Linked DNA regions of Homo sapiens. The protein of the gene in region 1 binds, or shares a complex with, the protein of each later gene. Each region holds a gene or a part of one and is shown in the gene's direction. Other genes may lie near its edges. The genes, in order: GET1 and CAMLG.

Region 1 (8,784 bases):
ATTCTGCCCTGGGCCCCTGCCTCACCACTGTTACCCTGCACCTGCACCTTGCTCTGCCCCGTCTAATCTAGGACTGAATTCTTCTGGGAGGGGAGAGGTTACATGTTCCCTGTCACTGGAATAACAGCTCTGGTGATGGAATTGGTTTTCATTTCACAATTGCAATTTTATTTATAGTGAAACAGACAAACATTTGTATTGGAGCAAATTCATGGGCATATCTGTAAAAGGAAAAATATAGTTTGAATAGCAATTTGAATATGAGTTTTTTTTTTTTTTTTTTTTGTGGTCGTTATAGGGAGCCGAAAAAGGCAGCAGAGGCTGGCTGTGTAGGTAGAGGGCAGCTTGCCCAGTTGGCAGAGGTGGGAGTAGGATGTTGGAGGAAGGTGTACCGGTTCTGTCTGGCCAAACCCATGCTGGAGTCACCTCAAAAGCAGTGGCAGGGGAGTTCCCTCAAGGGGCTGCTCCAGACTGCCTGGAGATGGGGCTGGCTTGGATTCCAAAGAAAGAAGCACTAAACGCCAGGGTGATAAGTCCACAGCATTCATGACGGGAACTTACAAGAGCTGCGGCAGTCCCGGGACAGCCAGTGAGAGAAAGGGACATTTACCTAGGGCTGTCTGCCACCCGGGGGTTGGGGTATGGAGTGTATGTGGGAGTTTAAGGACTTTGTCATGGTGGGGCTAGTTTGTAGGTGTTTCTCAGCAGGATGAATCTCCCAGTGTTCTCCAGCAACAGCCTTTGCTCTTTATCAGTCCTGGGAACGTTCACGGCCGCAGTTTGCATTCAGTCCTGCAGGGACGCACACAACTGGCTGGGTCACAGAGTGGTCAGGGCATAGACAGAAAGTAGCGGGGGACTGGGGAACCCTCCTGTGACCCGTGTTGGAAGGTGCTGATCCCCGTTGTCCGCCCTGCCAGATGTCCAGGGTGCTGCAGAAGGACGCGGAGCAGGAGTCACAGATGAGAGCGGAGATCCAGGACATGAAGCAGGAGCTCTCCACAGTCAACATGATGGACGAGTTTGCCAGATATGCCAGGCTGGAAAGAAAGATCAACAAGATGACGGATAAGCTCAAAACCCATGGTACTGTGTCCCTTGCAGCCTGGAGGCTTCATGAGAGCGGATGAATAGAGAAGTCTGTATGTGAAGATTAGTAGAATACATACTTTGCTTCTTGGATGTTCTGAATATTGATGGAAACTTAAGTTATCTGGAGGAAACTCAGTAATAAGTATTACTTTCCTCTTATTTGCTGGTGAACCTTTGCTTTCTAAGCACAGAAATATCTAAGATCCTCTCAGATTTTCCTCAGAGCCAACTCTTTAAAATTTTAAGCTAACTCTTAAAAATTGTAGGTTTTCATTTTTAAATTCATCACTTTTCTGAGAGAAGCCCAGAAAAAAAGTCTCACAGTGGATTCCCAGAGGCTTTTGTTCCACTCTCTAGAAAAATGCCCAGCAGTGTCCTCTTCTGAGTGTCACCTCCCGGGTCCAGTGTCCTGTGATGAAGAGCGCTTTCTCAGGGCAGCCCGTGTGCTGAGGGACCCCGGTCACAGTGTGTGCACAGTCAGAGAGCTGTCTCTGTGGCTAGGAAAACAGACAGAGGGGCCTGTCCAGGCCCAGGACAAGCTGGACTCCCACCAGGGGTTCGTGTACTGTGCACACTGGGAAATAAGGAGGAAAATTTAGTCCTGTTGGTAAGTGGTAACTGTATTATACAAAGAATCTTTGATTTCATGAGTCGTTTTAAGAGTTTTCAAAATTAAAGCTATTCAAATCTCAATCTGAGTCGGATACTATTTTAAATAATGGCATAATGAGATGGTGGGTGACTTAAAAATTCTATTTTATATTTTCTAAATATGTTGAGCGATTGTTCCATTTATAATCAGAAAGTGTATTATAAGGGAAAATAACATTTCTGTGTATTTGAATATTTTGTTAATTTTTCAGGACTGACATAATTATTTATCCTGTTTTTCCTTTCAGTGAAAGCTCGGACAGCTCAATTAGCCAAGATAAAATGGGTGATAAGTGTCGCTTTCTACGTATTGCAGGTAAGTGTGCTAGAGCGTCAGCCGGGTCATTGGAGTTGGTGACCCCGGCCTCCAGAGCCGTGTCTGCAGATCCAGGGCTGGGAGTTCGGGCTGTTCCACCTTCAGCTGTCGTGTCGTGTGTCCCTGCCCACATGGAGCTCTAAACACTCTCGGTCTCTAAGTCAGACTAAAAGGAAGCCTTTCTCTTGAGGAGAGTTGTTAAAGTTTGGGACTTTTTGGCAGATGGACTGTGAAGTAAGTTCTCGGAGAGCTTTCACCATGCCTGCATCCCAGTGTGGTTTGAAGGGCCTGGTGGGATGAAGCGAGAGGCTTATAGATGACATCAGTTTTTTCTGAGATCTTCAATACTTTTGGCCCTTACTTGTTACCTGGTGTACTTCATGCACGCTCTCCACCCTCCAGGTAGAGAACCAGCTTTTCCGACTGGAATTGGCTTCTAGCCTCCCTGCCTGGGGCTTAACCCTCATAGCCTCTCCTGGAGCTGTTGGGCTCTGCTCTGCCCCGAGAGTGCAGTTGTGCTGCCCAGACACCTTTAGCAGCTGCCGTAAATATCCGAGTTGCAGTACCATGTGATCCGGTAACCAAGGCAAAGGATTCAAGCCCACCCCCAAAAAAGCTTAGTTTGGCAGGGTATATTGAAGGAAATTAATTCTGAGGCACTGTCATTTGCTAAGAGATAAGTTTCCGCAGACAAAGGAGTTAGGCCAGCAACCCTCTTTCATGTCTCTTCTGAGCGGCCTGTTCAAGCCAGGAAGGGGACAGATGACAATCGAAGGAATGCTGTGGGGGGATGGAGGGAAATAAAGCATCCCCCACCATTGAAACTTACACAGGGCTCACCTCTGCGTCCCTTGCTAACACTGGTGTACGTGGGAGAATTCACTATTTTTTCCAAGGATGGCTTTCGTCACTAATAAGGTGTGTTGAGCATACAGTCTGGCTACTCAAACGAGATACTCAGTGAGAAAAGCACACCCGTGTTATGGGAGACTTTGGTTAGTTTATCAGCTAATTTAAATTATGTGTAGATTGTGTTCATCCTAAAACAGTGAAATGCCAGTTCACATAGGAAGGCTCGCCTACTTGTTGGCAGTGTTCAGACATGCTGCTGAGCTCGTCTTTAATTTGACTTTCTCATTCAAGGTTTCACCAAGGGACATTAGTGGCTGTGCGTGCTCATCTGTTGTCTGTGGGGACTGGGTTCCTAGGCTTGAGGTGCTCAGTCTGGAGAGTTTTCCTGGTTTTATTTTCGCATTTCCCTGTCCTCCCTTCTGTGTGGTCGGTTGTGTGATTGGCAGGCTGCTTTGCTCACCAGAGGTGTCTTTACAGGCTGCCCTGATGATCTCACTCATTTGGAAGTATTATTCTGTCCCTGTGGCTGTCGTGCCGAGTAAATGGATAACCCCTCTAGACCGCCTGGTAGCCTTTCCTACTAGAGTAGCAGGTAAGAATTTTCTGGAAGATGCAGTGGAAGAGTGTGAATAGGCTTATGTAGAGGTGTGTGGTAGAAGATTAAGTTAGCCTGACATCCTCCTCACCGTCCATTTAGTGAGCGGGGTTTTGTGTCTCAGCCTCACATGAGGCTTCCCATGAAGAAACTGAGGTCTGAAAAAGTTACTTCACTTGTCCAGTGTCACCAAAATGTTAAGGAGCAAAGCTAGGATTCAGTCCTAGGTCTGTTTCCGGGATCCATGCCCAATACGTCAAGTCTGATACCCCATTGAAACACTAGCCGTAGTTCCAAAATTATGTATCTTTTCAATCCCTATTATGGTTGGCTTCTCTGTAGCACTTGCTGCTCCTGGCTATTCTTTTATTTTTTATTTTTTGAGACTGAGTCTCACTCCGTCACCCAGGCTGGAGTCAGTGGTGCGATCTTGGCTCACTGCAACAACCTCTGCCTCCCAGGTTCAAGCAATTCTTATGCCTCAGCCTCCCAACTAGCTGAAATTACAGGCATGCACTACCACGCCCAGCTAATTTTTGTATTTTTAGTAGAGACAGCGTTTCACCATGTTGGCCAGGCTGGTCTCAAACTCCTGACCTTAAGTGATCCTCATGCCTTGGCCTCCCAAAGTACTGAGATTACAGGCATGAACCACTATGCCCAGCCACGTTCTTTTATTTTTGAAGATAAATTTTTTTTAGATATTAAAAGTAGTACATGTCACTATAGAATGATTAGAAATATAGCTATCAATTAAAAATCCCAGCTGGGTGCAGTGGCTCACGCCTGTAATCCTAGCACTTTGGGAGGCCAAGGTGGGCGGATTGCCTGAGCTCAGGAGTTTGAGACCAGCCTGGCCAACATGGTGAAACCCTATCTCTACTAAAATACAAAAAATTAGCTGGGCATGGTGGTGCGTGCCTGTAATTCCAGCTACTTGGGAGGCTGAGGTGTGAGAATCACTTGAATCCGAGAGGTTGCAGTGAGCTGAGATCACGCCAGTGTACCCCAGCCTGGGTGACAGAGTGAGAATCTGTGTCAAATAAAATAAAATAAATAAAAAATAAGATTCCTATTAGCTTTTAATGCTGTGATATGTTTTTCTTTGCCTTTTTTTCCCCATTTATTTTGATATAGTTAAGGTCACCTGGCACATCACATGTTGTGCCTCCTTTTTACTTTATAGGGTAAGCCTATTCCCACATGTTTTAGTTTGTTAGGGTTAAGTGAAATACTATAAACTGGGTAGCTCATAAACAACAGAAATTTATTTCTCACTGTTCCGGAGGCTGGGGAGTCCAAAATCAAGGTGCCGGCAGATTTGGTGTCTGATGATGGCCCATTTTCCAGTTCATGGATGGTGTCTTCTCACTATGTCCTTGCATGGTGGAAGGACAAGCTCCTTTAGGCCTCTTTTATAAGGGCACTAATCCCATTCACACGGACTCTGCCCTTGTGACTTAATCACCTCCCATAAGGCCCCAATTCTTAATGCCATCACTGTGGGGGGTAGCATATTAGCATATGAATTTTAGGGGGATACAAACATTCAGACCATAGCACCATATCAGTACATTTCTTTTCTTTTTTTTCTTCTCTTTTCTTTTTGAGGCAGGGTCTTGCTCTGTTGCCCAGGCTGGCAGTGGCACCCTCATAGCTCACTACAGCCTGGAACTCCTTGGCTCAAGCGGTCCTCCCACCTTAGTCTCCTGAATAGTTAGGATCACAGTTGCACACCACCATGCCCAGCTAATTAAAAAAAAAAGTTTTTTATAGAGATGGGGTCTTGCTTTGTTGCTTAGGTTGGTCCCAAACTCCTGGCATCAAGCAATCCTCCCTCCTCAGCCTCTCAAAGTGCTGGGATTATAGGTGTGTCACCTTGCCTGGCAAATTTCTTTATTAAGGAATTTTCAGTAGCTGTTCTTCATTTAGATATCTCATTTGCAGATTTTCCTGATGAAGGATATTTATTCCGGTCCTGATTTTTTGCTATTAAAGATAATGCTGCAGCACACATACTTGCTGGTCTTTGGTTGTGATTTGTGATTATGTTAGAGGTGAATACTGTATCAAAAGGAATGACTATTTTTTTTTTTTTTAAGACCGAGTCTCACTCTGTCGCCCAGGCTGGAGTGCAGTGGTGTGATCTCTGCTCACTGCAACTTCCACCTCCCAGGTTCAAGTGGTTCTCCTGCCTCAGCCTCCCCGGTAGCTGGGATTACAGGTGCCCACCACACGCCCGACTAGTTTTTGTAGTTTTAGTAGAGACAGGGTTTCACCATGTTGGCCAGGCTGGTCTTGAACTCTTGACCTCAGGTGATCCACCTGCCTTATCCTCCCAAAGTGCTGGGATTACAGGTGTGAGCCACTGTGCCTGGCCAGGAATGGCTGTTTCAAAGACTCCCAATTTAGCTACCACCCCTGTCCCCTTCCCCACCCTTTCCTTCCCCTCTCCTTTGTTTGACACAGCTGGGCCTAGGCCAGGAGCTCTGCACTGCGGCCAGAGAAGCATCCAGCCACCCTTCCATGCATCCAGCAGGTCCATGGGTCACTCTTGCAGCCTGTCTTCCTGGACAGGGGGATATGTATGCCTCTCCATTATTGGTGGGGCAAGAAAGGCATAGGTAGACATTGCTTTGTTTATAATGCTTTCTGAGAAAGGAAAAATAAATAATCTTACAGGTTTGGTTTTGGAATCTATTAATATCATAAATAGTAATGCACATCTCTCTGGCAGGAAAGGGAAATTCAGCCCAGGGTCCACCGTTCACTGCAATTCCTGCTTAGTAAAGAATACAGCCCTATGATTCTATAGAAAGTGACAAATTCGGGCTGGGAATGGTGGCTCACACCTGTAATCCCAGCACTTTTGGAGGCCGAGTTAGGCAAATCATCTGAGGTCAGGAGTTTGAGACTAGCCTGACCTACATGGTGAAACCGTGTCTGTACTAAAAATACAAAATTAGCCGGGTGTCGGCCGGGTGCGGTGGCTCATGCCTGTAATCCCAGCACTTTGGGAGGTCGGGGCGGGCAGATCATGAGTTCAGGAGATCGAGACCACGGTGAAACCCCATCTCTACTAAAAATACAAAAAATTAGCCGGGTGCGGTGGCGGGCGCCTGTAGTCCCAGCTACTCGGGAGGCTGAGGCAGGACAATGGCGTGAACCCGGGAGGTAGAGCTTGCAGTGAGCCAAGATCGCGCCACTGTACTCCCACCTGGGTGACAGAGCGAGACTCTGTCTCAAAAAAAAAATTAGCCAGGTGTGGTGGTGCACACCTGTAATCCCAGCTACTCGGGAGGCTGAGGCAGGAGAATCGCTTGAGCCCGGGAGGCAGAGGTGCAGTGAGCCGAGATCGCACCATTGCACTCCAGCCTGGGGGACAGAGCGAGACTCCGTCTCAAAAAAAAAAAAAAAAAAAGAAAGTGACAAATTTGAACCTATGAAACATAAACTTCACTTCAGCCCAGCACTGCTCAAAAAGAATGGAAATACTCTCTTTGCTGTGAGTTAAAGACAGCAGAGACAGATGGGGGCAGCACTGCTGGTATGCGCTCTCATGGTGAATGTCTTTGTTTTCAGGTGGTGTTGGAATTACCTGTTGGATTTTAGTCTGTAACAAAGTTGTCGCTATTGTGCTTCATCCGTTCAGCTGAACAGGAGGATGGATACAGCCGCGAGGCTAAAAAACGGATTTCCTCTTCCTAGCTTAAAATCTGATTTACACTGTTTTGTTTTTTAAGAAACAAAAGTGCATAGTTTAGATTTTTTTTTTGTTGAATATGTTTGTTCTTGGACTTTATGAGAGAGTCTTATAAGAATCACGATTTTCTACACCTGTCATTGAGCCAAGAAAGTCCAGTTTATGACACGTATGTACTAGTGAACACCGTCCTCGATCTGTACGAAATGTGAAATGTTTAGGGACATCTCCATGCTGTCACTTGTGATTTGCCCTCTTATGTATTTTGGTCATATTGCCAACTGGAAAGTCAAAATTTTCTAACAACTTTAAGTAAGTTCTTTGAAGACTTAGTGCTGTTTTTAATCCAGTTTAGAAAGTAACTTAATTTTAATACCACTACTAAAAATTCGAAAATTTCTTCTTTAATCACATTCAATATGGTTAAAAGAACAACACTAATTGACATTGCGTGGGCTTTTTCTCCCTTTGTTTAAAATGTCATTTGTTGAGCAAGAGTTGTATAGTATTATCTACTTACTTGAGGCTGTTAATTTTTCATTACAGTGTTTTGTAAATGTATCCACGAGACCATGATGCATTGTTTTGTGCTCAACTTGTGTTTTGTATTTAAAGCATTTTGAATGAAGTGTATTTTATAAGCATTTAATATTTATGCTCTTTAGAATGGAACACAGAAAACAAACCTTATAAGTCCTGATTAATCTGAACCAATAACCTGTGTGGCCTACAAAGTATAATTCTATTAAATGTTCCTTAAAACACTTTTTTCTAATTAAAATCTTTGCAAATGCTTGTGTAACTTCCTGCCTTACAGCTACTTGTTTGCTGTGAGCCACCCGCAACTGACAAGTGGCTGTTAACTGAGTCACCATATCCCAGTAAAGCTGAATTTTCTCACTAGTTTCTGCAAGTTCATATTTGTACTCTTTTGTTTCCTAATGATCTAATAAGTAGTTTGTTGTTATTTTAGCTGATTGGACTGTGAGAAGACAAAGTGCTGTGGTCCTTTATTTATTGTCATGCTGAAGGCCACCACAGCAGCTTTTGGGTTCCACTTACTCAAACACACATGCACGCAGGCTTACCCAGCACCAAGTTTACTTAGCTTTAAGAAAGGACAGAGCAGGGAACGCAGCCACAGCCTGGTGGAGGAACTGGACACCAGCTTCCAGTGTCCGTCACCACACGGGATACATTTTGCCCACAAAGGATGAGAAGCCAACCTGGGGAGGAGATGAGAGTAGCACACGGAAGCTGCAGGAACTAGTCCTTCAGACGAAATATAGCACCAAGGGGGCACGTGCCTAACTCCCGTTTTAGTAAGCTGCAGGCAGAAATGATGGTGGACAGTCAACAGTGCACCGGCCATGTAGAGCGTGCCCAGGGAACTGCTGGGATCACTCATCCGCATACAGTGTCCATGATGATACCCGTATCTCTTAAAGATATTCTCATTCAGTTGTTACAAGAATTTTGACAAATCTCACTGAGGCTAGAGGTAAAAATTTCTGGTTCACAGCTATTAACTTTCCCCATGCGTGAATAGTTTGTGATGATTAAATAGGGGAAATG
Region 2 (9,687 bases), on another chromosome or scaffold:
TCTTTTTTAGATGTTCACTAATTACATTCTAAATAGGTCTTCACAATTGCTTTATGAATGCCAATTTGAGGGTTTACAACCTAGAGATTATCAAAAAACACTACTATTTTAGATAACTGGTGAGACACTGAGATGGTAGAGGATTGTTTCCTGGGAATTTATTTCCACCTGAAAATTTAACACTCTTACACTCTTAACTAGCTTAGTAGCTGATATATATTAGGCATTCAAATAATTGATGAATGAATGAACAAGCTCAGACATAACTTAGTGAAACTAGAAAGTCCATCCACAATCATAAAAGGTGTCTTTTTATGTTCCCTATTCCCTTCCACTCTTTGTTCAATGCATTTGAATTTTGTATTCTCTCATAAATCATAGTTAAGATTCAATTTTGCATTATACATTATACATACTACTTTAGCATTGCTAGTGTTTGCATAATAGCATATTATTAGCTATTTAATCAATATTTATTATTTTTCTCTCAATATTGGAAATATGAATTAATTCCAAGTTTTCACAGTTATTCATTGAGCATCTACATGTTCATTTTTTTTTTCTTTTTTTTTAGACAAGGTCTCACTGTCACACAGTAAGTGCATTGACAGGATCATAACTCGCTGCAGCCTTGACCTGCTGGGCTCAAAGGATTCTCCCACCTCAGCCTCCCAAGTGACTGGGATTACAGGCTATTTTTATTTATTTTTATTTTTTGTAGTTTTCGTAGAGATGGGGTTTCACCATGTTGCCCAGGCTGGTCTCGAGTGTCTGGGCTCAAGTGATCCTCCAGCCTCGGCCTATCAAAGTGCTGGGATTACAGGTGTGAGCCACCATGCCCAGCCAGTTTTTTGTTTTGTTTTTGTTTTTTCCTTTTTGTGAATATTTTACCTATGTTAAGTTTTAAGTGATTACTATTATAAATCAAGAGACTTTTTTTAGTTCCTACCACATATTATGAGAATGCTAATTTATCATCAGCATGTTATGATTTGGAGCATGGGTTTGTCCTCATGAACGGGGACTATTTCTTTATATTGGTTGGCAGGATTAATCAGTGTGTCATAATTATCACTTCCTCAAATCGTGCTTCTCCGTGGTGACATCCAACTGCAGTATCATTTAAAAGGATAAGATTCTTAGCAATTCAGCCAGGGTTATGGCAAGGTCAGCACAAACCAATTGGTCTGTGTTGGAAGCTTTCTCCCTGAATTCTTCCTTCAAGTATTAGGGGTTTTGAGTCAGGATAATACTCATGTGCAATGATTTGGCAAAAGAGATGAGGCATGAAAATAATTCACTTTATAGGAGTGCTGAAAACAGCAGGTACAGGAGGGCTTCACAAGCCTGGAGAGGCCAAGCGTGGTAGCTCATGCCTGTAATCCCAGCACTTTGGGAGTCTGAGGCAGGAGGATTGCTTGAGCTCAGAAGTTCAAGAACAGCCTGGGCAACATGGCAAGACCCTGTCTTTAAAAATAAAAAATAGGCCAGGTGCAGTGGCTCACACCTGTAATCCCAGCACTTTGGGAGGCCGAGGCGGGTGGATCACAAGGTCAGGAGATTGAGACAATCCTGGCTAACACAATGAAACCCCATCTCTATTAGAAACGCAAAAAATTAGCCAAGCATGCTGGCACATGCCTGTAGTCCCAGCTACTTGGGAGGCTGAGGCAGGAAAATCACTTGAACCCGGGAGGTGGAGGTTGCAGTGAGCCGAGATCGCACCACTGCCCTCCAGCCTGGGTGATAGAGCAAGAGACTTTGTCTCTAAATAAATAAATAAATAAAAAATAGCCAGCTGTGGTGGCATGTACCTGTGGTCTCAGCTACTTGGGAGGCTAGGTGAGAGGATCAGTTGAGCCTGGGAAGTCAAGGCTGCAGTGAGCCCCGTTGGAGCCACTGCACTCCAGCCTGGGCAACAGAGGGAGACTCTGTCTCAAAGAATAAAAAAAAGCATGGGGACTGCCTGAGCAAGGGAGGCCAGAAACCTTAAATTGCCACTCTCCTAGAGTAGCAGAAATCCTCATCAGTGTCACCCTGGGGTAACATCGGAGAGTAACATTATCCAAGGAGCCAAATGATTTTGTCCCAAACCACGGCAACATCCACACATTTATATTAACTTTTTTTTTTTTTTTTGCGACGTAGTCTCCCTCTGTCACCCTGGCTGGAGTGCAATGGCATGATCTTGGCTCACTGCCACCTCCACCTCCTGAGTTCAAGCGATTCTCGTGCCTCAGTCTCCCAAGTAGCTGGGACTACAGGCGTGTGCCACCATGCCCGGCCTGTTTTGCAGTGTTTATAACATACTAAAAGTTAATATAGGCCCGGCGCGGTGGCTCACGCCTGTAATCTCAGCACTTTGGGAGGCCGAGGCAGGTGGATCACCTGAGGTCAGGAGTTGGAGACCAGCCTGGCCAACATGCGGAAACCCCATTTCTACTAAAATTACAAAAATTAGCTGGGCATGGTGGTGCGCGCCTGTAATCCCAGCTACTCAGGAGGCTGAGGCAGGAGAATAGCTTGAACCCAGGAGGTGGAGGTTGCACTGAGCCGAGAGATGGCACCACTGCACTCTAGCCTTGGCGACAGAGTAAATAAATAAATAAATACTGTAAAACAAAATATTCAGTACCATCTAAAATTACATTTATTTCATGAGGTTCATTACTTGGCTTTCAGTTTGTTATACTAAGCTCCATTCTCATTAAGGAGAGGACTATTGACATGTCTCCTATTGAAACTGTTAATTCACTCTGTTTCTTTTAAACTTTGAGTGTTTAAGGGTGTTTAACAACTATACTTGAGAAAATTATTGAAATAAAATTTCTGGCTGGGTCCAGGGGCTCACACCTGTAATCCCAGCACTTTGGGAGGCTGAGAAGATTGGATTGTTTGAGCCCAGGAATTTAAGACCAGCAACATAGAGACCCCATCTCTACAAAAAATTTTTTTTAAAAAATTATCTGGGCTCGGCCGGGGACGGTGGCTCATGCCTGTAATCCCAGCACTTTGGGAGGCCAAGGCGGGCGGATCACGAGGTCAGGAGATCGAGACCATCCTGGCTAACACGGTGAAACCCCGTCTCTACTAAAAATACAAAAAAAATTAGCCGGGTGTGGTGGCCGGCGCCTGTAGTCTCAGCTACTTGGGAGGCTGAGGCAGGAGAATGGTTTGAACCCAGGAGGCGGAGCTTGCAGTGAGCCAAGATTGCGCCACTGCACTCCAGCCTGGGCGACAGAGCAAGACTCCATCTCAAAAAAAAAAAAAATTATCTGGGCTCAATCCTGTAGCCTTAGCTACTCAGGAGGCAGAAGCAGGAGGATTGCTTGAGCCCAGGAGTTCAAGGCTGTAGGCTGCAGTGAGCTATGATTGTGCCCCTGCACTCCAGCCTAGGCCATAGAGTAAGACCCTGTGTTTATAAAAATAAAAATTTGACTCATTATGGAATTTAGAGGAAGTAATTTGCTAATTTCTGAAAATTGTTCTTGAATTTCTTTTAAGCAGTTTCATCAATTCATTCTTTTACTCTTTTTCTTTTGAGACAAGGTCTAGCTCTATCACCCAGGTGGTTGTGGAGTGATGCAATCATGGCTCATTGCAGCAAACTTCCTGCCTCGTTTTAAATTTTTTTAAATTTTTTGATTTTTTTTTTTTTCTAGAGACGAGGTCTCACTATGTTACCCAGGCTGGTCTTGAACTCCTAAGCTTAAGCAGTCCTCCCACCTTGGCCTCCCAAAGCGTTGGGATTACAGGTGTGAGCCACTGCGCCTGGACTCTTTTTTTTTGTTTTTCTGAGACAGAGTTTCACTCTGTCGCCCAGGCTAGAGTGCAGTGGTGCAATCTCAGCTCACTGCAACCTCTGCCTCCTGGGTTTGAGTGATTCTCCTGCCTCACCCTCCCGAGTAGCTGGGATTACAGGTGTGTGCCACCATGCCTGGCTAATTTTTGTATTTTTAGTGGAGATGGGTTTCATCATGTTGGCCAGGTTGGTTTCGAACACCTGACCTCAAGTGATCCACCCACCTCAGCCTCCCAAAGTGCTGGGATTAAAGGTGTGAGCCACCGCACCTGGCCTCCCGATCTCTTTTCTTTGTTTTTAAATAGAGAAGGGGGTCTCACTATGTTGCCCAGGTCAGTCTTGAGCTCCTTGCCACAAGTGATCCTCCTGCCTGGACCTCCCACATGCCAGCCCAGACATTTTTTATAATTCTGTTCAAGTTCAGTTATACGGCTTCCTCAGTTTCAAGGAGGAATGAAATATTACTTGGAAATAATTTGCTTGATGCTTATATCATTGAATATAACACTATAATTCTAATTTAGCTCCTCAAACCCTTTCTGGAACCGTCTTGATTGATCAGGGCTGTGCCTCATCAAATTCTGCACATTTGTTACTATTTGACAGTTATTTCCATTATTTTCAGTTGTGTGTAAAATTGTTTTAAGGAAGTCTAGGGCTCAGAGATCTATGTCTGTGCAGATATGCAGAAGAACTTCCTCTAATACTTTAAAATTATTAACTAGTGGATGTCCCTGGGATTTAACTTTCATCCAATCAAGGGTGAAAGTTCAGTCTGTATATTCTTTGAGCTCCTTATGTTGTTGAATCCAAACCGAAGTTTCTTTTGTTTTCACTTCTTTTTCAGTATTAATATAAATATAGTATTTTATTATCTTCTAAGTGGTATTTCACCCACTTCCTTATTTTGAGGGTGATTGTGTGGCAGGCTTAGTTGCAGGGGGCCCACCCAGTAAGCTGCTTCAAAACCCTCCTCAGCCTCAGGTGTGAACTGGCCATGCTCCCTGTTAGCAAGGGTTGATGGATTCAATTCCTTCATTCATCTAATCATTCACTTAGTAAGTCATTACTGAATGCCAAGGCTGCATTATGACTTTCAAGGGCCCTAAGCTCTTTTGCCTTTGTGGCTCCTTCCTGCCTGAAAACATACTTAAAATTATATTTTATGACTGTATTGCTATTAATGATGACTATAATCCAGACTGGATCCATTACAATATAGCAAATATATTATTTTTTTCTGAAAAAACTTTTTTGAGATGGGGTCTCACTGTGTCACCCAGTCTGGAGTGCAGTGGCCCGATCATTGCTCACTGCAGCTTCAACCTCCCCAGGATCAGGTGATCCTCCCACCTTAGCCTCCCAAGTAGCTGGGACCACAGGCACACGCCACCAAGCCCGACTAATTTTTGTATTTTTAGTACAGTCAGGGTTTTGCCACGTTGGCCAGACTGGTCTCGAATTCCTGGCCTCAAGTGATCCACCCATCTCAGCCCTCACAAAGTGCTGGAATTACAGGCATGAGCCACCGCGCCCAGTCATTTGTTCTGATTTTATTTTATTTATTTCTTTTATATATGTATTTTTGAGACGGAGTCTCCCTCTGTCGCCCAGGCTGGAGTGCAGTGGCATGATCTCGGCTCACTGCAATTTCTGCCTCCCAGGTTCAAGCGATTCTCCTGCCTCAGCCTCCCAAGTAGCTGGGATTACAGGTGCATGCCACCAGGTCAGGCTAATTTTTGTATTTTTAGTAGAGACGGGGTTTTGCCATATTGGCCAGGCTGGTCTCGAACTCCTGACCTCAGGTGATCCGCCTGCCTCGGCCTCCCAAAGTTAGGATTACAGACGTGAGCCACCGCTCCCGGCCTTTTTGTTTTTTTCTTTTCTTTTCCTTTTTTTTTTTTGAGACGGAGTCTCGTTCTGTCGCCCAGGCTGGAGCATCTTTAGCATGCGAGGTGGTCATGAACGACAAGGAGAAAAAACAAGGTGAAGGGGAATGGGGAGTGTTGGCAATTTAGATAGAATGTGCACGAAAGGTTTCAATGGGAAATTCTAATTTGAATAAAAACGCACAAAACGCGAGGAAAGCCTAGGAACACATCAGCCGTATACTTTGCCGTAGAGAAGTTAAGGATGAGGAACAGGCACCAAGAACAAATCCCAGCGTAAGGCTCCCTTTAAGTGCGGCTCCCAGGGTTACGTATTCCCATTGCCTACAGGCGAGGCCGCGGGTCTGTAAACAAGCGACTGCCGCTGCAACCTCCATTTTGCTTCCTGGCACCAAATCTAGGCTGACCTACTTACTGCCATCCCTTTCCCACTCCCGGTTTTCTTTTCTTTCTTTTTTTTTTTCTCGAGACAGAGTCTCGCTCTGTAGCCCAGGCTGGAGAACAGTGGCGCGATCTCGGCTCACTGCAACCTCCGCCTCCTGGGTCCAAGAGATTCTCCTGCCTCAGCCTCCCGAGTAGCTGGGATTACAGGCGCGCGCCACCCCGCCCGGCTAAGTTTTTGTATTTTTAGTAGAGACGGGTGGGGGGAGGGGGGAGGGGGTCACCATGTTGGCCAGGCTACTCTCGAAATCGTGACCTCGTGATCCGCCCGCCTCGGCCTTCCAAAGTGCTAGGATTACAGGCGTGAGCCACCACTCCCGGCCCTGGGTGCTGGTTTTCTTCACCTCCGAGTGAACAGCAGAGGGGGCTGTTGGGTGAGGGCCAGAAGAGTTGGGGAGGCACGAGGGCGTCCAGCGCTGCCCTCACTCAAGATGGCGGCCAGAGCCTCGCGCTTGGTCGCGTGGGGCGGTGCGTGAGTGCTTAGCTCACAGGCTCCGGGACCGCGCTCGGGGGCGGGTCTATAGTGGGAAGGGGACGCGCGCCCTGCGGCCCGGCCTCTAGTCATCGCCCTCGCAGCGGCGGCCAACATCACCGCCACTGCCACCCCTCCCAGACTGTGGACGGGAGGATGGAGTCGATGGCCGTCGCTACCGACGGCGGGGAGAGGCCGGGGGTCCCAGCGGGCTCAGGTCTGTCGGCTTCCCAGCGTCGGGCGGAGCTGCGTCGGAGAAAGCTGCTCATGAACTCGGAACAGCGCATCAACCGGATCATGGGCTTTCACAGGCCCGGGAGCGGCGCGGGTAAGAGCCTCGATTTCCCCTCAGTCTCCCGCCCATCACCTTGAATCTTCAGGGTCATTCTTCCCTCTCCCACCTCCACTCCTCTGACCTTTTTGACCAAGCCTTGCTCTTTGATTTCCTCTCTGTCCCGCCCCTTCGGTGATATCCCAAGTTCTCATCCCTGAACCCCAGGATGTTCCTAGTCGCTCCCCTCAATTTTCCCGGGGCCTCGCCGTGAGATTTTCCCCACCCTGCCTGCAGAGCTCTCACTCCCTCTTCCCAGTTACGTTGAACAGCCCCTTTTTTCCTTAGCCACTCCTCGCCTTTCTTGAAGGGCGCACGTTGTATCCCCAGACTGTCATGTCTACTGCTCCCCTTAGGAAGATGGCTTTCCTTCTTAAGGTTCCAAGTGCTTTTCCTTACAGTGCCTTCTCTAGCGTCTACCTTCTTTTGCCTTTTGCTGTGTAACTCCTGTCCGCCCACATCAGCCTGTCTTTACTGAACTGCCCGCTAGTTCATCCTACGTGTATCAGGGACTCTTGTGCTCATATCCTAGTGTTTGTGTTCAGTGCCGTCAACACTGTCACCTACGGGCCGGCTAGAAAAGGTGGGAAAAGTGAGAGTGAGCATTCTTCAGAGACCCAGCAAGTGCGAAGTGCACACCTGAGAGTTTCCTCTCCTCATGAGGGGATATTGTTGTGATTGATGTCTGGAGCTGCATTTCTAAGGAGAGCGCCTCCTTCCTCCCCCAAACACATGTCCAATGATTTTCTTTAAAAAAAATTTATTTCACGTGAGTATAATTGAGCAATTAGCGCGCCCTAGTGTTATCTAAGTTTCCAGTGTTTCCTTTAGTAATTGGCCTTTAGTCACTGGTCGCAAGCTCCTTATATCTTTGTGACTTTTGTTCTGTAAGGCTTTAGGTGTATAGCTCTGAACTTTTAGGCAGTTCAAATGAGAGGTAAGAAAACCATTTCAAATTCTTCTAGAACAATAGAAGAAACATTTTTCTATCGGGCTATTTATTCTTAAAGCATTATTTATGATCTTACCTGAGGTACTTTCTATATTTTGTTCTTTTGCTTTGAAAATTTTATGTCTTTAAAGGTTGTTTTATTTTTTGAGACAGGGTCTCCCTCTGTAGGCCAGGCTGGAGTGCAGTGGCATGATCATAGCTTACTGCAGCCTCAAACTCCTGGGCTTAAGCAATCCTGCTACCTCAGCCTCCGGAGTAGCTAGGACCACAGGTGTACACCACCATGCCTGGCTAATTTAAAAAAAAATTGTGTGTGTGGAGATGGGGGGGTCTCACTATGTTTCCTAAGCTGGTCTGGAACTTCTGGGCTCAAGTGATCCACCAGCCTTGGCTTCCAAAAGTGCTGGGCTTACAGGATTACAGGTGTGAGCCATTGTGCCTGGCCTTTTTTTTAAAACAAAAACAAAAACAAAACCCCAGAGTAGTGTCTTAAAACTGCTGAAGTGCCTACTAATGGCTGCCTGACTACATAAACAGTAGCTTTGGGATATGCCACACCCTATGCTCATAGGGCACTGGATTCAGAAATCTAATTTTAAAATATAGATTTTAAAAGGCTTTACTGATTTTATATTTTTAACCAAATAAGCTAAGGCAGGCAATGCAATCATACATCTGGGATATATTATCCATAAAAAGTTGGTCTTTTCAGCTTGCTCCATCTCTGAATATCTTTCCCAGTTTGTCTACTAATCTTATCTCCTACCCACAAAGTTTGGGTTATTTCCTCTGCAGAATATTCATTTTGGGTGATACATTTTGAGGGTGTAGAGGAAGAATCCAGCTTTTTTCTTTTTTTTGTTTTGAGATGGAGTCTCACTCTGTCGCCAGGCAGATGCAGATGGAGTGTAGTGGCGCAGTGTCTGCAACCTCCTCCCCCCGGGTTTCAAGTGATTCTCCTGCCTCAGCCAGAGTAGCTGGGACTATAGGCAGCTGGGACTACAGACACACGCCACCACACCCAGCTAATTTTTGTATTTTTAGTAGAGACGGGGTTTCACCATGTTGGCTAGGATGGTCTCAATCTCTTGACCTCATGATCCGCCCGCCTCAGCCTCCCAAAGTGTTGGGATTACAGGCGTGAGCCACGGCACCTGGCCGAAACCAGCTTTTCTTTAATGCAGAATCGGTATTTATTTATTTTGATGCAGAGGCTGCTGAGTTCTAGCTGCAACAGCATATTTTAAAACATAAACATGTAAGGTGTTTGCCAGTATGGAATAAATACATAAGGCTTTTACATTTCTTTTCTCAGAAGAAGAAAGTCAAACAAAATCAAAGCAGCAGGACAGTGATAAACTGAACTCCCTCAGCGTTCCTTCCGTTTCAAAGCGAGTAGTGCTGGGTGATTCAGTCAGTACAGGAACAACTGACCAGCAGGGTGGTGTGGCCGAGGTAAAGGGGACCCAACTGGGAGACAAATTGGACTCGTTCATTAAACCACCTGAGTGCAGTAGTGATGTCAACCTTGAGCTCCGGCAGCGGAACAGAGGGGACCTGACAGCGGACTCGGTCCAGAGGGGTTCCCGCCATGGCCTAGAGCAGTACCTTTCCAGATTCGAAGAAGCAATGAAGCTAAGGAAACAGCTGATTAGTGAAAAACCCAGTCAAGAGGATGGAAATACAACAGAAGAATTTGACTCTTTTCGAATATTTAGATTGGTGGGATGTGCTCTTCTTGCTCTTGGAGTCAGAGCTTTTGTTTGCAAATACTTGGTAAGAAAAGATCTGTAAATTATT

Evidence for each region.
Region 2: GET1 (region 1) and CAMLG share a complex: the UniProt entries of both Homo sapiens proteins name them as parts of the golgi to ER traffic (GET) complex.

What each region holds. Positions count from the first base shown.
Region 1 is NC_000021.9:39,389,778-39,398,561, forward strand, and holds the end of GET1 (guided entry of tail-anchored proteins factor 1), read left to right. Parts: intron 1-920; coding exon 921-1,086; exon of another isoform or gene 1,087-1,699; intron 1,700-1,991; coding exon 1,992-2,059; intron 2,060-3,388; coding exon 3,389-3,503; intron 3,504-7,088; coding exon 7,089-7,162; 3' UTR 7,163-8,112; downstream 8,113-8,784. Other genes in the region: GET1-SH3BGR (WRB-SH3BGR readthrough), read left to right, coding at 921-1,086, 1,992-2,059. UniProt on the Homo sapiens protein: Required for the post-translational delivery of tail-anchored (TA) proteins to the endoplasmic reticulum (ER).
Region 2 is NC_000005.10:134,731,861-134,741,547, forward strand, and holds the start of CAMLG (guided entry of tail-anchored proteins factor CAMLG), read left to right. Parts: upstream 1-6,687; 5' UTR 6,688-6,760; coding exon 6,761-6,932; intron 6,933-9,202; coding exon 9,203-9,663; intron 9,664-9,687. UniProt on the Homo sapiens protein: Required for the post-translational delivery of tail-anchored (TA) proteins to the endoplasmic reticulum.